2 separate regions of the Homo sapiens genome follow, and region 1 is linked to region 2. The links come from fine-mapping of genetic effects on gene expression. A gene starts in region 2. The other region holds a variant in brackets. All regions are shown on one strand. Distances are between the middles of the regions.

Region 1 (8,785 bases), 22 kb before region 2:
CAGACATGAGCCACCATGCCTGGCCAATTCTGTGATTCTCAAATAAAACATTGAGAGATTCATCTCTATATTTTATTTGACTTTGACAAATCCTGTAATTATGTCATAATATGATGAACGTTTTGAGAAAAGTCTATTCTAAGTATAATGAGAACAAAGAAAAAAAAGATTGGTCCTGGCTATAGAGGTTAGAATATTTCACAAGAAGAAATTATGTTAGAGAATATTCTTGAACGATCAATTGGACTTTGCCAGACTGTGGTGGGCATAGGGGACCCAGAAGGAACATTCATTCTAGTTATGAGAAAGGGCCCAGAGACATGGCGAATCTGGGGGACAAATTCCACATTTTCCATATACTTGATCATTAAGCACATGACCAAGTGTGTCAGTGCATGAGGATGGACAAGATAGATTGGAGCCTTCACTGTTTTTTTCTTCTCATTTACCAAAAATTTCATCATTTTAGAATTGTCCCAGTTTTCTAATTTTAAGTCAGGGCTTCTTTGTCATGCTTAAAGTCTTACCCTCTGTGCCCTCTGCTCTGTGTTCTATATGGTAGCCTGAAATTTGGCCCTGTTATATATATTTATTTATGCCAGACTCCTGAAGGTGTTCAAGCATACCATTTATCAAATATTTCCATGTAATGTGGCAGCTAATAACAGCTTCGTTTTACAGAGGGAAGAGCTGAAGCAAACACTGATTTGTAGATTGCTTGGTAACAGGAAAGAGACCTGATGTATGCCCTCTGTCTTTCCTTCACAAAAATTTTGTAGCTTTCTTTGTTTCTTCAAGCCTTCTACCTGTAGTTATACTTTAAGGGAGATAATTATAAGCAATTTTGATTGACCTGAGTCGATCACACTAGGACTGTCATAAGGGTTAGATTTTGAGTTGACTGTGGCTTTAAGGAAGAATTAAATATTGTAACACCATTTAAAGTTATAGAAGAAAGCATAAGTTACCACTCAGAATATAGGTTGGTAAGACTAAAATCTTCCTGAGCCCATGAGAATACCTGCTTTTTTTTCCAAGTCTAATTGTTTCATGAAGAATTGCTGAGCATGGTGGCTCATGCTTGTAAACCCAGTACTTTGGGAGGCTGAGGCAGGAGGATTGCTTGAGCCCAGGAGTTTGAAACCAGCCTGCGCAACAAAGTGAGACCCCCATCTCTTCAAATAATTTAAAAATTAGCCAGGGGTGCTGGTACATGCCTGGGGTCCCAGCTACTCAGGAAGCTGAGACAGGAGGATTACCTGAGCCTGGCAGGTCGAGGCTGCATTGAGCTGTGATCATGCCACTGCACTACAGCCTGGGTAACAGAACGAGACCCTCGCTCTTAAACACACACATACACACACACACACACGTATATATATAATTGGGCATACACCTGTAGTCCTAGCTACTCAGGAGGCTGAGGCAGGAGGATCACTTGAGCATAGCAGGACCCTGTCTTTAAAAAAGAAAAAGAAGAATTATTGTTGCCTTTTTCTTTTCATTTCTTTTCTTTTTTTTGTTTTGTTTTGTTTTGTTTTTTTGAGACAGAGTCTCACTCTGTCTGGAGTGCAGTGGTGAAATCTTGGCTCACCACAACCTCCATCTCCCGGGTTCAAGCGATTCTTGTGCCTCAGTCTACTGAGTAGCTGATATTACAGGTATGCGCCACCACGCCTGGCTAATTTTTGTATTTTTAGTAGAGACGGGGTTTCGCCATGTTGCCCAGGCTGGTCTCAAACTCCTGACCTCAAGTGATCCGCCCACCTCAGCCTCCCAAACCTCTGGGATTACAGGCATGAGCCACCATGCAAGTCTGGGAGGTAGTATATCATGTAAACATTGCAGGACAAAAGCATACCCAAGTGGGTCACACTGCTATCTAGGATTTGGCCTTTGGCTTTCAAGATCCAAAAAGTTCAACTATGAATTCTGCCAGAACTGATCAGGGTTTAGAGGATGTAAAGCAACCTCTTTCTATTGTGTCTCTAGCACCATCTACTGGGAAACAAAAGTGCCTTTATTTTTTTTTTTTTATTTTTTTTTTTTTTGAGACGGAGTCTCGCTCTGTCGCCCAGGCTGGAGTGCAGTGGCGGGATCTCGGCTCACTGCAAGCTCCGCCTCCCGGGTTCACGCCATTCTCCTGCCTCAGCCTCCCAAGTAGCTGGGACTACAGGCGCCCGCCACTACGCCCGGCTAATTTTTTGTATTTTTAGTAGAGACGGGTTTTCACCGTTTTAGCCGGGATGGTCTCGATCTCCTGACCTCGTGATCCGCCCGCCTCGGCCTGCCAACGTGCTGGGATTACAGGCATGAGCCACCCCGCCTGGCCAAGTCTCTCACATTTAATCCCAACACAATGCTGTATACAAACCAAGTGACTCAGAATAAGAATGCAAAAGTAAACCAGACAAATGCAAGCCGAAGTAGTCTCGGCCGGGCTCAGTGGCTCCTGCCTATAATCCCAGCACTTTGGGAGGCCGAGATGGGCAGATCACCTGAGACCAGCTTGGCCAAAACGGTGAAAGCCCATCTCTACTAAAAATACAACAATTAGCTGGGTGTGGTGGCAGGCACCTGTAATCCCAGCTACTTGGGAGGCTGAGGCAGAAGAATCGCTTGAACCTGGGAGGCCAAGGTTGTGGTGAGCCGAGATCACGCCACTGCACTCCAGCCTGGGCAACAAGAGCAAAACTCTGTCTTAAAAAAAAATTGGTTGCATGTGCAAATATTCCCTATTTAAAAATTTGGCCAGATCACACCTGTAATCCCAGCACTTTGGGAGGCCAAGGTGGGTGGGTCACTTGAGGTCAGAAGTTTGAGACCAGCCTGGCCAACATGTTGAAACCCCGTCTCTACAAAAAATACAAAAATTGGCTGGGCATGGTGGTGTGCCCCTGTAATCCCATCTGTTTGGGAGGCTGAGGCGGGAGAATCACTTGAACCCAGGAGGCAGAGATTGCAGTGAGCCAAGGTTGAGCCACTGCACTCCAGCTTGGGCGACAGAGTGAGACTCCGTCTCAAGAAAAAAAAAAAAAAAAAGAGCAAGGAATCCTTTGTGCACTTCCCAGATTCTCTCGGTTAAACAGTGGACACCCACACACCAGGATGGTATCGCCTGGACCTCAGTGTCTCACTTGAGTGCTTCGTACCTAGGCATCCTGAGGCTGTATGTGAACTCAGAACTCCAGTCTTCAGGCACTAGGAAGACTACATTTCTGAACAGCAGTTCTGAGTTTAAGAAAAGAAATGGGGCCGGGTGCAGTGGTTCACGCCTGTAATCCCAGCCCTTTGGGAGGCCAAGGCAGGTGGTTCACGAGGTCAGGAGTTCGAGACCACTCTGGCCAATATGGTGAAACCCCGTCTCTACTAAAAATACAAAAATTAGCTGGGCATGATGGTGCGTGCCTGTAGTCCCAGCTCCTCGGGAGGCTGAGGCAGGAGAATCACTTGAACCAGGAGGCAGAGGTTGCAGTGAGCCTAGACTGGCCATTGCACTCCAGCCCAGGCAACAGAGGGAGACTACGTCTCAAAAAAAAAAAAAAAAGAAAAAGGAAAAATAAATGAAATGTCCTCTTTTACTCAGATAGATTTGTGTGTTCTCTCAGCATTTAGGAACCCACAAAAGCAGAACCAAATGTTTTAAATGACTGGCAATTGGTTCTTCTTTTACTTTTTAAATTATTTTAATGGTAAGGTACAAGTTCCTGCTTTTTCTTAGCCTCCTAAGATTTCAGCCCTACTTTGCATGCTACTTCTCTCCCCTGATTACAGTGGAAGCCAAGTTCCTAAAATTGCCATTTGACCACATGAAAGGGAAAAATAATTATCACCCTAAAAGAGTATGTTAACCTCCTAACATTTGCATTTACCTTTAAAATATATGAGACAGCTCTGGGACTATAAGAAAACTTTTTAGGCCAGGAGTGGTGGCTCACACCTGTAATCCCAGCACTTTGGGAGGCCAAGGCAGGTGGACCACCTGAGGTCAGGAGTTGGAGACTAGCCTGGCCAACATGGTGAAACCCCATCTCTACTAAAAATACAAAAATTAGCTGGGCGTGGTGGTGTGTGCCTGTAATCCCAGCTACTTGGGAGGCTGAGGTGGGAGAATCACTTGAACCTGGGAGGCAGAGGTGGCAGTGAGCTGAGATTGTGCCATTGCACTCCAGCCTGGGCGACGAGCAAAACTCTGTCTCAAAAAAAAAAAACTTTTTTTTTGGCTGGGTGCAGTGGCTCACGCCTATAATACTAGCACTTTGGGAGGCCGAGGTGGGCAGATCACCTGTCAGGAGTTCACGACCAGCCTGGCCAACATGGTGAAACCCCGTCTCTACTAAAAATACAAAAGCATGGTGGTGTGCACCTGTAATCCCAGCTACTCATGAGGCTGAGACAGAAGAATCACTTGAACCCAGGAGGCGGAGGTTGCACTGAGCTGAGATCGCGCCACTGCGCTCCAGCCTGGGTGACAGAGCAAGACTCCATCTCAAAAAACAAAACAAAACAAAACAAAACAAAAACTCAACCGTAACATTGTTTAAGCCTCTGAAACAGAGCCCTTTTCTTTTCCTCTTCAAGAAAAAATGGCTGGAGTGATTTGGCCTGCTACAGAGGAAACTGGTATTCTCTGTACTTGGTACAAGGTTCTAGCACCTGGCTGTTACTACTCCTGGGTG[G/T]GCCATAATTTTAAGAGGAAGTGGACCTCTGCCATCATCTTATCCTGGGGTTTTCCACCTGCGCTGCTCAGAACCTGTACTTGATTCAGCTAGAACAACTCTGGCTTTTATGTATATGTTACTATATATTTATGAGTATATATTTTCCATTGTCCCTTGGAATCCATGGAGGATTGGTTCCAGGACCCCCTACTGATACTTAAATCATTAGATACTCTAGTTCCTTCTATAAAATGGTGCAGTATTTGCATATAACCTGAGCCCATACTCCCATATACTCTATTTATTTGAGGGTTTTTTTTTTCTCTTCCCCACCCTCTCCATATTTGTTTTTTAAGACAGTCTCATTCTGTTACCTATGCTGGAGTGCAGTGGTGCAATCATGGTTCACTGTAGCCTCGACCTCCTGGGCTCAAGCAATCCTCCTGCCTCAGCCTCCTGAGTAGCTGAGACCACAGGGACACATCACTATGCCTGGCTAATTTTTTACATTTATTTATTTATTTATTTTATTATTTTGGTAGAGATGGGGTCTCTGCATGTTTCCCAGGATCTGGGCTCCCATCTCCTTAACAAATTAAAATGAAGGCGGAGAGAGTAGAACCAGTGAGCCTTTGTGGAGGCTCTATATAAAGATGAGACTTGGGCATTTATCACCTTTGTTTTCTGTCTCTTCCCATCAGGAGAAGTTGCCCCAGTGCAAGGCACTGCATTCGACCTGAGAAAGCCAGTGGAGCTTGGAAAACACCTGCAGGACTTCCATCTCAATGGTTTTGACCACAATTTCTGTCTGAAGGGATCTAAAGAAAAGCATTTTTGTGCAAGGTCAGGTACTTTTCACTTCCTGAGTCTGTAAGGAAGAAATGACACCAAGTCCTATTTTCCTTTGGAGCTTTTCCTCTGGCCATATCAATAGCATTTACTATGCTACAAGTGACCCAATACCACATCCCATATTTTCTCAAAGCTCCCATGGCACAGGTGAGCTCTGTAGAATTTATCCCAGTCCCCCACCTGCCATTACCCCTATTCCCCCTGCTTGGCACCCGCTCTCTCCCTCTCTGCCTGTTCTTTAAGGCCCATTTTCTGTTAGAAGCCTTAACTCTTCCTAGTGAAGTCACCTCGGCTGTCACTGAACTTCCAGAGCCTTTGTGCTTTCTCGATCTGTGACTTATGCCTGCCTACTCCATGGCCAGTTGGAGGCTAGGCATCTCCTGCAGCACTCACCGCCTCCAGCCTTGACCGATAGACACTTGTGTGCACGCTCTCGCCTTCTCACCAAATCCCAGTTCCTCATGCCATTTCATCTTTGTGAAGCCCTACCTCTACCCCAACACCTAATATCATCCTTGGCACTAGCAAATAATGAATAAATGTTTGCAGAATTAACAGTTTTGTGTGTGTGCGTGTGTGTGACGGAGTCTTGCTCTGTCGCCCAGACTGGAATGCAGTGGTGCGATCTAGGTTTACTGCAACCTCCGCCTCCCGGGTTCAAGTGATTCTCCTGCCTCAGCCTCCTGAGTAGCTGGGATAACAGGCACGTGCCACTATGCCCAGCTAATTTTTGTATTTTTAGTAGAGATGGGGTTTCACAATGTTGGTCAGGCTGGTCTTGAACTCCTGACCTTGTAATCCACCCACCTCGGCCTCCCAAAGTGCTGGGATTACAGGTGTAAGCCACTGCACCCGGTCAACAGTTTTTAAATAAAGCAGAAAAAATGACTCAAACCAAATAGTGACAGAAAGAAGATCAAAGACCTTCTCCGGGCTGGGCGTGGTGGCTCATGCCTGTAATCCCAGCACTTTAGGTGGCTGAGGTGGGCAGATCACTTGAGGTCAGGAGTTTGAGACCAGCCTCGCCAACATGGTGAAACGCCGTCTCTACTAAAAATATAAAAATTAGCCAGGCATGGTGGTGGGCACCTATAATCTCAGCTACTCAGGAGGCTGAGGCAGGAGAATCACTTGAACCCAGGGGGTGGAAGTTGTAGTGAGCCGAGATCACGCCACTGCACTCCAGGCTAGGCAACAGAGCAAAACTCCATCTCAAAAAAAAAAAAAGAATCTCAGGCCAGGTGCAGTGGCTCTCATGCCTGTAATCCCAGCACTTTTGGAGGCTGAGGTGGTCAGATCACCTGAGGTCAGTAGTTCAAGACCAGTTGGGCCAACATGATGAAACCCCGACAATACTAAAAGTACAAAAAATTAGCCGGATGTGGTGGCAGGTACCTGTAATCCCAGCTACTCTAGAGGCTGAGGCAGGAGAATTGCTTTAACCAAGGGGGCGGAGGTTGCAGTGAGCCAAGATCGCACCACTGCACTCCTCCCTGGGTGACAGAGCCAGACTCCATCTCAAAACAAACAAACAAACAAAAATTAGCTGGACATGGTAGTGCGCACCTGCAGTCCCAGCTACTGGGGAGCTGAAGTGGGAGAATTGCTTGAGCCCGGGAGGCTGAGGTTGCAGTGAGCCGAGGTCGCGCCACTGCACTCCAGCCTGGGCAATAGAGAAAGACTCTATTTCAAAAAAAAAAAAAAAAAAAAAAAGAATCTCAGCCTCTCCAGGACCTTCCTCTCTCCAACCTGGCTGCTGCCTTCCTCCCTACTCCCCAGCTGGCAGGAGTGAGTCTGTTTTGTGATGCCCCAAAGAAGCTACTGAGGATCCTGAAAGCCACCTGCTCATGCCTTGCCTTTGAGACTGGAAGAATTTTCCATCATGCTCTTCCTACCTTCATCTCCTCCTTATATCTTGTCCCTGCTCTGTGGCTGGGTCTGATTCCTGTCTCAAAGCCGCTTCCCAGCTTCTACTCCTCCCCACCTGCTTTTCTGCCCTGGACTCATGTTGTTTGTATTTCTTACCAGGGTGCATCATGCTGCAAGCGGGCGGGTACTAGAAGTATACACCACCCAGCCCGGGGTCCAGTTTTACACGGGCAACTTCCTGGATGGCACATTAAAGGGCAAGAATGGAGCTGTCTATCCCAAGCACTCCGGTTTCTGCCTGGAGACTCAGAACTGGCCTGATGCAGTCAATCAGGTAATGCCACAGGCTGGCTTTTCAGAGTAGAGTTGTGTCCAAGGTCACACTGTACGACAGAGTTCACTACACTCGAATCAGCTTGTATGATTCAAAAGTTCATGCTTTGTTTGTTTGGTTTGTTTTTTGAGACAGAGTCTCACTCTTGTCGCCTAGGCTGTAGTGCAGTGGCACGATCTCAGCTCACTGCAACCTCCGCCTCCTGGGCACGATCTCAGCTCACTGCAACCTCCGCCTCCTGGGTCCAAGCGATTCTCCTGCCCCAGCCTTCCAAGTAGCTAGGATTACAGGCGCCTACCACCATGCCTGCTTAATTTTTGTATTTTTAGTAGAGACAGGGTTCCACCATGTTGGCCAGGCTGGTCTCAAAACCCCTGACCTCAGGTGATCCACCTGCCTTGGCCTCCCAAAGTGCTAGGATTATAGGCGTGAGCCACTGTGCCCGGCTCAAAAGTTCATGCTTATTCTCTTCTGCAAGTCACAGAAAACCCATAGCCAAGCTACTAACATGGGATTTACATGGTTTTAAGAAAGCTGAAATTTTGTACCTTCAAAGCCTTTATCCAGTTTGTTTCTCCTTAACAATACCTTCTCGTTTTCTGCAGCCACACTTAAGGAGAGCTTCCATATCGTCTCCTCCTATGTGCTCCCTCATAACTTTCTTTTCTGGTTGTTACCCAGAGCAGTACTCCTGAAAGTGCCAGCCCACAATAAGAAGCTTGCACCTTGGGCTGGGCAAGGTGGCTCATGCCTGTAATCCCAGCACTTTGGGAGGCTGAGGCGGGAGGATTGCTTGAGCCTGAGATTGAGGCTAACCTGGGCAACACAGGGAGACCCCATCTTTACAGATTATTAGAAAAATTAGCCAGGTGTGGTAGTGCACACCTGTGGCCCCAGCTACTTGGGAGGCTGAGGTGGGAGGATCCCTGAGCCTGGGAGGTCAAGGCTGCAGTGAGCCATGATCACACCACTGCACTCCAGCCTGTGCAACAGAATGAGACCCTGTCTTTAAAAAAAAAAAAAAAAAAGGGCCAGGTGCGGTGGCTCACACCTGTAATCCCAGCACTTT
Region 2 (8,785 bases):
TTAAACTGAAAAACATCCTACCAGTTGTTGCTAACAAAAGCCAATCTTTCAACAACTGTTTTTCAAAAAATGACTCAATTACTACATCATGATTAATCTTTTACATTCTGCTTTAAGCACATCGATTTCAGGATGCTTCTCCATGCACCTATCAGTTCTAACAAGGGCCTCTTTAATATAATCCCCCAAGTCATAAGCTTCTTTCTCACTATAGTTTTACATTCCCTTGTTCAGGGAAAGTCAGCCAGTAATAAATAGGACATACACAAATAAGGTACTGTGTTCCCACTAAAACCTAAGTTTAGAGTTAACACTTAAAATTTCAACAATTAAAAACACTTTGAACTCTTTGGATATTGGTGCCATATAACTAGAAAAGCATAATCAAATTTTTACCCTACCTGCTTCTTGGTCGTGAAATAGACCTGGATCTTGATCTTGACCTCGACGGGGATCTTAATAAAAAAAGTGAAAAACACAATTATATCAATCAGTCCAAAGGAATTTCCTTAACTACTCAACACTGTATTAGGTTGGTCAGGCATAAAGAAGCTAAAACTAAACAAGATGCAACACTTGCCTTATTCTGTCTAACACACTGTCAAACAAAGTGTTACCAGACATAAGGAACCCCCATTTCAATTACTTGTTTCTATCACTCAATTGGTTAGTTTCTGTACAGGTATAACATTCTCAAACACTGTGTAATATCCAAGGGAAATACATGGTTTTCATTTGATGAGACTGGTATGAAGGAAGCAAAACTAACCTCACTTAAGGCACAGATCCCTCAGCTGGGCACTGTGGTACACAATGGCAGTCCCAGCTACTCAGGAGGCTAAGGCAGGATGAAAATAACCAGACCCCTGAACTGAGACTAATTCAGGTGATAAGGCCAGACGAAAAGAAAGCCGCCCCCCATTTGTAAGGCTTTATTCCTGGATCAAGTTATGTTTGAGAGCCATCAATCTGTCAGACAAACCAAATCAGACTGACATATCTATCTTTTAAATTTATCTAAAGAGATGGTTCATAGCTTTCTCAAATAGACCACAAGATTCAGAATTCCTGCATTTAAAGGTTTTGTGCTATTAAACAGCAATTTAACTCCCAGTAGCATTCCGTACCACGGTTTTATCGTTGGTACAGATAACAATATTGTTAATTACATGTTGCAATACTTATTTTACAATTTTTTCCATTCTATCTCCTTTTAAGGCCTTCTACAAATAGTAAAGCTCTGGTTCTTTAGTTTTTTCAGGTCTGAAACGGTCTAAAAAAAAAAATCCACATTCATTTCTGTGTACACACTACTGCCCTAGTCAACTTTCCAGTGTCTCAAATCAACCCCATCATTCCAAAAATGAGAAATGTTTCTACTTGCTTCTGATCTCTTTTCCTGGTGCTAATAGGCCTTTTTGTCGGGAAAATCAATTACCATCTTTCAGAGCTAGTATCATCCAATCTGAAGCCAGAAAAGTTTATAGCAACATGCCTACCCAGAGTGTTGAGTAGAACTGTATTGCTTGGGACCCTTGTCTACCACACGGCCTAACAAGCCTTAAAATCTCTAGTAGCCCTTTTCTTCATCTGTAAAACTAGGTTAATATTTATGTTACAAGTTACACATAAATTCCAAACTTTTACATCTCAAATATTCCCTGAAGCAATCCATTTGAATTATGTCCTTAAGACACTCTACTGATAAGATGTGAACAATCCAAACACAAGTAAGGAAAAAAAGTGTTACATACTGGAAATACCTCGATCCTTTTATAGAACCAGACCTAGATCTTCTGAGTGAAGCTGATCTTGATCTACGAAGAGAGATAGATCTTGATCGTCGAGGAGATGCTGACCTTGACCTAAAATAAAGAACTTTAAGTCCATCTCCACAGTTTTTTTTTTTTTTGGCCTGTTAAGACTTCAACTGGGGAACGGTGCAGTGGCTCATGCCCATAATCCCAGCACTGCGGGAGGATCGTTTGAGCCCAGGAGCTTGAGACCAGCCTGGGAAACAGTGCAAGACCATTTCTACAAAAATAAAAATTAGCTGGGTATGGTGGCAGTGCCTACAGTCCCAGCTACTCGGGAGGCTGAGGTAGGAGAACTGCTTAAACCCAAGAGATCATCAAGGCAGCAGTGAGTCGTGGTTATGCCCCTGTACTCCAGCCCGGGTGACAGAGCAAGACCCTGTCTCCAAAAAAAATAATGAGCTTTTTCTGTGTTGGACTACCAGTGAATTTAATAATAATACAGAAAGACTTCAGTTAAACAAGATCTCACCTTCGTCCCCTGCTCCTGCTGCGTGAGCGAGAGTATCGCCTTCCTCTGGATCGAGAATGTGATCTAGACCGTGACCTATTTTTCAAGTTAGAGAAAAAACAAAATGTCAGACAATAACTCGTTTTTAAGAGTTTGTGTGCCTCTGCTGAAATCAAATCTCAAAACTATTTAAATTTAGTGTCTCATTTGGAAATAAACTCTGGGCCTATTAGTTGTTGAGTATTTTTTTTTTTACTACCTAAAAAAAGATTTGTTAAAAGCTGAATTACAACTTAGCATTACATAATATAAAACACTGTAATGTGTATTTAAAATAAACCTTGCAAGTTTGCAGGTCGACCCTCTTTGGCCCATGGTCTAGTAGATCTAGACGATCTAGAAGTATCTATAGCCGATCGCTGCATCTAGATGTTTTCTTCAATCTAACGACGATCAAACTGACAGCCAAATGAGCCAGGTGAGGCTTGATTGACGCAAGAAGATTTTTCTAGTTGGGAATGTGGTCAATCTGGTGTTCCTCTTTCTAAACCGGAGGGGGGCCCCAATTGTAAGCCAAATTTACTGTTACGGCGATCACCGTCTCAAATTTTCTGCCCTTTAAAGAATAAGGTGAAGCTAGGTGTAGATGACTCGAGGGGATCTGGCCTCTTATGCTGATCACCTCAAGGTCTAGGAGGATCTTAATTGTCGGATTTGCAAGGCGCCTCAGCATGATATCATAAGGCTCGTGACATTCTGAATCAAGGCGACTGACTCAAACGAAGAAACCTGAAAGGTTTTGACCAGGTTGATTATTAATATAGTAACATTTTTTTAATTAAACAAAAATTGTAAAATACACCTGTACAATTAACATTCAAGTTTATAGAAAAACACTAGTTTCTGCCTTGCTAATAAAAGAATTACTTGATTAACTAGAATACCAACCATTCCTTTATTAAAATAAATACCTGCTTCTTCTTCGCCGGCTGTAACGATGACAATCATAAGCATAATGTCCCTTTTCGCCACACTCATAGCATCTATCATTTGGATCAAAGGGACGTCGGGCAGGTGGTCTATCAAAACGTGATCTCCGAGGCATGCCTGTCGATAGTTCAACCCTCACTCGGGAGCCACAAATCACCCTAATAAAAGCAAATTAACAAAATTCTAAAGTTAAAAATATATTCAGGACTTATAGATTTAAAAAGAACTCTTTCCAACCACTCACTCTTTCCAACCACTCCTTCCCCCCCAACAAACTTTGGCGGTCTTTACCAAGCCCTAACTCCATCTCCGCTATCTTCTTTAACCTTCGTGTGCCTTTAGCATTTAACACTATGACCAGCTATTTAAGGTCTCTTCCAGACTTCAGAATCCAAATTTAGCACTAAGTTCATTATCTAGCCACAGTATATTTTAATGAACAGAAGATTCATAACATCTTACTTACTTTCCATCCAGTCCTCGTACTGCATCTTCTGCATCTCTAGGATCTTCGAATTCCACAAAGGCAAATCCTGGAGGATTTCTCGCAATCCATACAGTTCTTAAAGGACCATAATAACTGAAAGCCCTTTCTAACTCTCCTTTGCCAGCGCCAGTTCCCAGGTTACCAACATACACCTTGGTTTCTGTTTAAAAACGCAAATAGAAGAATGCACGTTACGCAAAATCTGGCCCAAGTTTCAATTACTTATTTGCCTTAAAACGGGCCATCCTCAAGATTGGGTAAAGCACATTTAATGCCCTCTATCCAAGACAAAACTTAGTCGTAAAACTGGTGAAAGTCCGCAAATCCCTGAGAAACTAGACTTTTGACAAAATTCTTAACGTTCTAAATAATGCGGGGTGACCCTCCCGAACACAAGCAGAAACGCGTGGTAGGATACACCGAGGCGTGGGGCGGAACCTGGCCCGGCCCCACCCATGAGTCCCGGCAGCCCCGGGCGCACCGGGAGCGCGCGGGCCCGCAGCGGCAGCGGCGTCGGCGGCGGGAGGGCCTCGGTAGGGGCCGGGCCAGGAGAGCAGGGCTGCGCCGGCTCTCGTCCTCCGCGGCAAACGTCCCAGGCACAGGCTCGCCCAAGACTCCAGCTCCCCGCCCCAGAGCCATAAACCGCGCTGGAAATAACTAAAAAAAACCCAGCCGCCAGTCGCAGATTACGTCCCCATTCCCATTCCGCAATTTAACCGATTGTTTGACGAGAACATGCAGCTCACAGCTGCCAATTTCGTTCTATCTCAAACACAACCACGATCTTACAGCTGCGGCCAGATCTGTCCGCTGAAGTGGCGGGAAAGCGCTGAGGAAATGCGCCACCACGGTCCTCAATGTGCGCAAAATGGCAGCCGCCGCCGAGGGCGGGGGGGGAGGGGGGCCGGCGGGCAGCTCCGAGAAAGGCAACGCGAAAACCGTCATCTCAACCCTGCTTTAGGCTGGATTGGGCCACAAAAATGCCCAAGAGTACGGAACTCGGCAGAGATGTACACCCGCCATCCCGTCTCCCTTCAGCACCCCGCCTCCGCTGCCTCCGGCTTCGTCTGGCGTGCTCCTAAGCCGCCATTACGCACGCGGAATAACCGTCTCCCAACCTCCGCGACAACCCTACGGCCTCGCAGTGCTCACTACACCCACACCAACGTCCCTCACCGGACTCCAGCTTCTTACCTCCTCCGTACCGCCCGTAACGCGACATGATGACAGACCCGCGTGCTCGGCTCTTTAGCAAGCAGCGCCCAGGGCTCGAGTGACGCAAAAGCTGACACACACCTTCACCCGCCAAGAGTCCCGGCGGCACTACGAGGAAGAGCCCGGGTTCGCGTTTATATATGCGGCCGCTGCGCTTTGCGCATGCGTCATCTCGTTGTTCTGCGCGGCACAAAGGAGCTGGGCGGAAACAGCCAAGAAACGACGCGGAAGGAACTGAAGAGACTAACACGCGGGTCATGGGCGGAGGGATACGTTTCTATGGGAACGCCACGATCTCTCCAGTAAACCTGAGGCCTTCCCCATGCTGTCCCGCCCCCTCCTCTCCCCGTTTTCTACACCCTCCTTGTCTTCTTTCCCGTCTCCCTACCCTCTGCCTCCTTTCGTTTTTCCCCAGGCTAGGGACCCTCAGCCTTAACAATCTTAGTACGGATGCATTAGACCGGCCTATGAAAGGCTGTACAATTTAACCGCTGATGTTGCAGCCGTCGCGCCCTTCTGCTGGGGGACCTGGCCTAGTCAGCTACTCTGATCTTTGGGGCTCATCAGAGGTAATCGAAGGTTTGGCCATGGTGAAAAGTCCATGAACCCCGCCATTCTGAGTAGTGGTTTTTACACCATAGACCTTGACGCACCCTGGGACTGGTGGTAAAGCCTCCTGTCCTACACGCCCCCTCCAACTTCTTTTGAACCAGTCACCAGTTTGCACCACCACGGTCTGAGTTCTTGGAGTCTGAAAGACAAAGGAATAGAGCTGTGGGGTCCCGCTCCCCCCTCCCCCCTTTATATTGAAATTGTGACAAAACCCTGAATGTTTAAAGCATTTTGGCCAGTGACAATTTGGAAATTATTTGCATCTGAAGCTCAAAGTAACTGATTTGCTTTTCCTAATGCTTTCTGCTTTGTAACACGTGTGATCCACCAATACTCCGATCCTGAGGACTGGGACTCCTAAGTCATCTTTGTGTATCTCCACTCAGTGGAAATAGCAGCCTTGCTGCTCAGCCACTCAACAGTACCAAATAAATGCAAAACTTCTTTACATTAGAATTGCTCTAGACACCAACTACAAATAGAGAAAAAGTTCTTTTTTGCTAGAAACATAGACATTACATCGTAAATTCTTGGAATACACAAAAGTTGGAAATGTACATAAAAAAAGACATTTAGGTATTTGCATTTTTATCTTTTTCGTCTTTTGCAACTTCATTTGGTGAGTATAGGTGTGGAATGGAGAGTACAGGGAAAGCAGGCCTAGTTGGTGAATAAAGCATGGATTCTTTCCAGGTCATGCTATGATTTTATGCATATTTTTTACGTTGATTAAGTTATGGAGAGAATTAATCTCTCTCAGGAAGATCTCTAAGAAGAAAATAGAAGCTCTGTAGAGTATATGTGTTCTCCCTTAGTCTTGGTGATTTTTTTCTTAACAAGGTTCTTCTCAAAAGAAACAATAATTATAAAGATCTATAGGTTCTTCTCAAAAGAATTAAACAATAATTATAAAGACTATATAGGGGCCAGGCGCAGTGGCTCACGCCTGTAATGCCAGCACTTTGGGAGGCCGAGGCGGGCGGATTGCCTGAGCTCAGGAGTTTGAGACCAGCCTGGGCAACACAGTAAAACCCTGTCCCTACTAAAATACAAAAAATTAGCCTGGCGTGGTGGCGTGTGCCTGTAGTCCCAGCTACTCCGGAGGCTGAGGCAGGAGAACTGCTTGAACCCAGGAGGCGGAGGTTGCAGTGAGCTGAGATCGTGCCACTGCACTCCAGCCTGGGCGACAGAGCAAGACTCCATCTCAAAAAAAAAGATTATATGGTATCTGAAAGATAAAATATAAATTCTGTAAAGCCTCACTAAGTTGACTTTCTTCTGTTAAGAAGCTATGAAAATTACTGTTGAGGCCGCGCGCAGTGGCTCATGCCTGTAATCCCAGCACTTTGGGAGGCTGAAGCTGGCGGATCACCTGAGGTCAGGAGTTCGAGACCAGCCTGACCAACATGGAGGAACCCCGTCTCTACTAAAAATACAAAATTAGCTGGGCGTGGTGGCGCATGCCTGTAATCCCAGCTACTCGGGAGGCTGAGGCAGGAGAATCGCTTGAACCTGAGAGGTGGAGGTTGTGGTGAGCTGAGATCTTGCCATTGCACTACAGCCTGAGCAACAAGAGCAAAACTCCTAGGCCGGGCGCTGTGACTCACATCTGTAATCCCAGCACTCTGGGAGGCCGAGGCGGGCGGATCACCTAAGGTCAGAAGTTCAAGACCAGCCTGGCCATGGTGAAACCCCCGTCTCTACTAAAAATACAAAAAATTAGCCAGGCGTGGTGGTGCGCACCTGTAATCCCAGCTACTTGGGAGGCTGAGGCAGGAGAATTGCTTGAACCCGGGAGGTGGAGGTTGCAGGGAGCCGAGATTGCGCCATTGCACTCCAGCCTGGGCAACAAGAGTGAAACTCCATCTCCAAAACAAAAGAGCAAAACTCCGACTCAAAAAAAAAGAAAATTACTGTTGAGCCAAGCATAGATAACTGCTTGAAAGACAGTGCATGTTATACTGTATAATTCCTAATAAACCTCAATAAACTTTTTTTTTTCCAATAAACTTTTTTTGACTCTGAATACAAAGTCTAAGTCAGGTTTTGTGGCTCATGCCGGTAATCTCTGCACTTTGGGAGGTTGAGGTGGGAGGATATCTTGAGGCCAGGACTTTGAGACCAGCCTGGGCAACAGAACCAGACCCCCATCTCTACCAACAAAACAAAACAAAGTCTATAGTTGTACTAAAGAAATTTCTAAGCAAGTAATAGTAAACAGAAGCAGTTTTAAAATTTATAACCAATTGCTTTCAAATCCTGATTCACAGACATGCTTGTCTTGCAGACAGGTGTTCAATAAGCTAATTACATACTGTTTATTCCTATGAAAGCAGGGCCAGTACAAGGCCAGGCTTTGTTAATCTGGTTACCATGAAAAAATAATAGTACTGTATACTATTTCCATAGACTATTCTACTTTCTACTGAACACTCTTTCTCTAAGAACAGGCAACCAATTCTTTTCACTAAATGTCAGTCCAAATCAGGGAGATTTTACTGTGCAGAGAACTTTTATTCCTGCTGATTCTTGTTGAAATCACATTCACCCACATAAGTTTCTGCCTCTAGAAATCTGTTAAATTTAGATTACATTCTCAGATTGTTTGAATATGAAAACTACTTTCTTCAAATATTGTAATATTTCCTAATATGAAATATTAGTTATTAACATGTTACTATTGTTAAATTTTAAAAATATTATTAGTTTAGGAAAGGGGAGTAATTCATAAGCCTTTTACAGCAGTTTTCAAAATGTATCTGCATTTTCTACATTTGGTATTTCCAGATAAATATTAAAGAAAAAGTTCCCTTTTTAATCGTACTTCTCTCACCATTTCAGTTTCACTTTTAAGTCATTATCACCATTTGAGCTTGGATGTGAAAACGTTAAAACAAGAAAGGAAAAAAAATTTAAATGTTTTGCACATTAGTCTATTTTGTTTGTTTTTTTGTTTTTAAGGCAGGGCAAGAAGTGGGCAGACCTCAGACTCCGCCTCCTGGACCCCAACTTCCCCCTCTGCCACACCAATATTCTATTTTTAATATAAATAAGTAGTCTATGCTAAAAAATACTAGTCTTTTTTTTTTTTTAATTTTATTTTTTGAGACAGAGTCTTGCTCTGTCGCCCAGGCTGGAGTGCAGTGGCACGATCTTGGCTCACTACAACCTCTGCCTCCCAGGTTCAAGTGATTCTTGTGCCCCAGCCTCCAAAGT

Alleles and levels. Positions count from the first base shown, and alleles are read on the strand shown. Sizes are in standard deviations (SD) of each study's normalised expression.
For the expression in visceral fat of the gene that starts at base 5,069 in region 2, allele G in region 1 goes with a lower level than allele T (moderate effect, 0.43 SD a copy in GTEx).

Evidence for each region.
Region 1: its variant is fine-mapped to the expression of SRSF7 in visceral fat (GTEx, PIP above 0.99).

What each region holds. Positions count from the first base shown.
Region 1 is chr2:38,724,194-38,732,978 of GRCh38, forward strand. GALM (galactose mutarotase) reads left to right here. Exons shown (of 7, transcript NM_138801.3): 5 at 5,363-5,504; 6 at 7,542-7,716. The region is part of intron 1 of LOC124905993 (a long non-coding RNA gene); the gene reads right to left. Among named protein-coding and RNA genes, the nearest start is that of SRSF7, 23 kb to the right of the region's middle. The variant G/T (reference allele first, on the strand shown) is at 4,680.
Region 2 is chr2:38,746,293-38,755,077 of GRCh38, forward strand. It overlaps SRSF7 (serine and arginine rich splicing factor 7), which reads right to left and starts at 5,069. Exons shown (of 8, transcript NM_001031684.3): 1 at 4,937-5,069; 2 at 3,722-3,902; 3 at 3,237-3,413; 4 at 2,287-2,361; 5 at 1,755-1,865; 6 at 402-455. The coding sequence starts at 4,964. RefSeq lists silencers at 4,154-4,343, 4,554-4,653 and an enhancer at 5,514-5,573.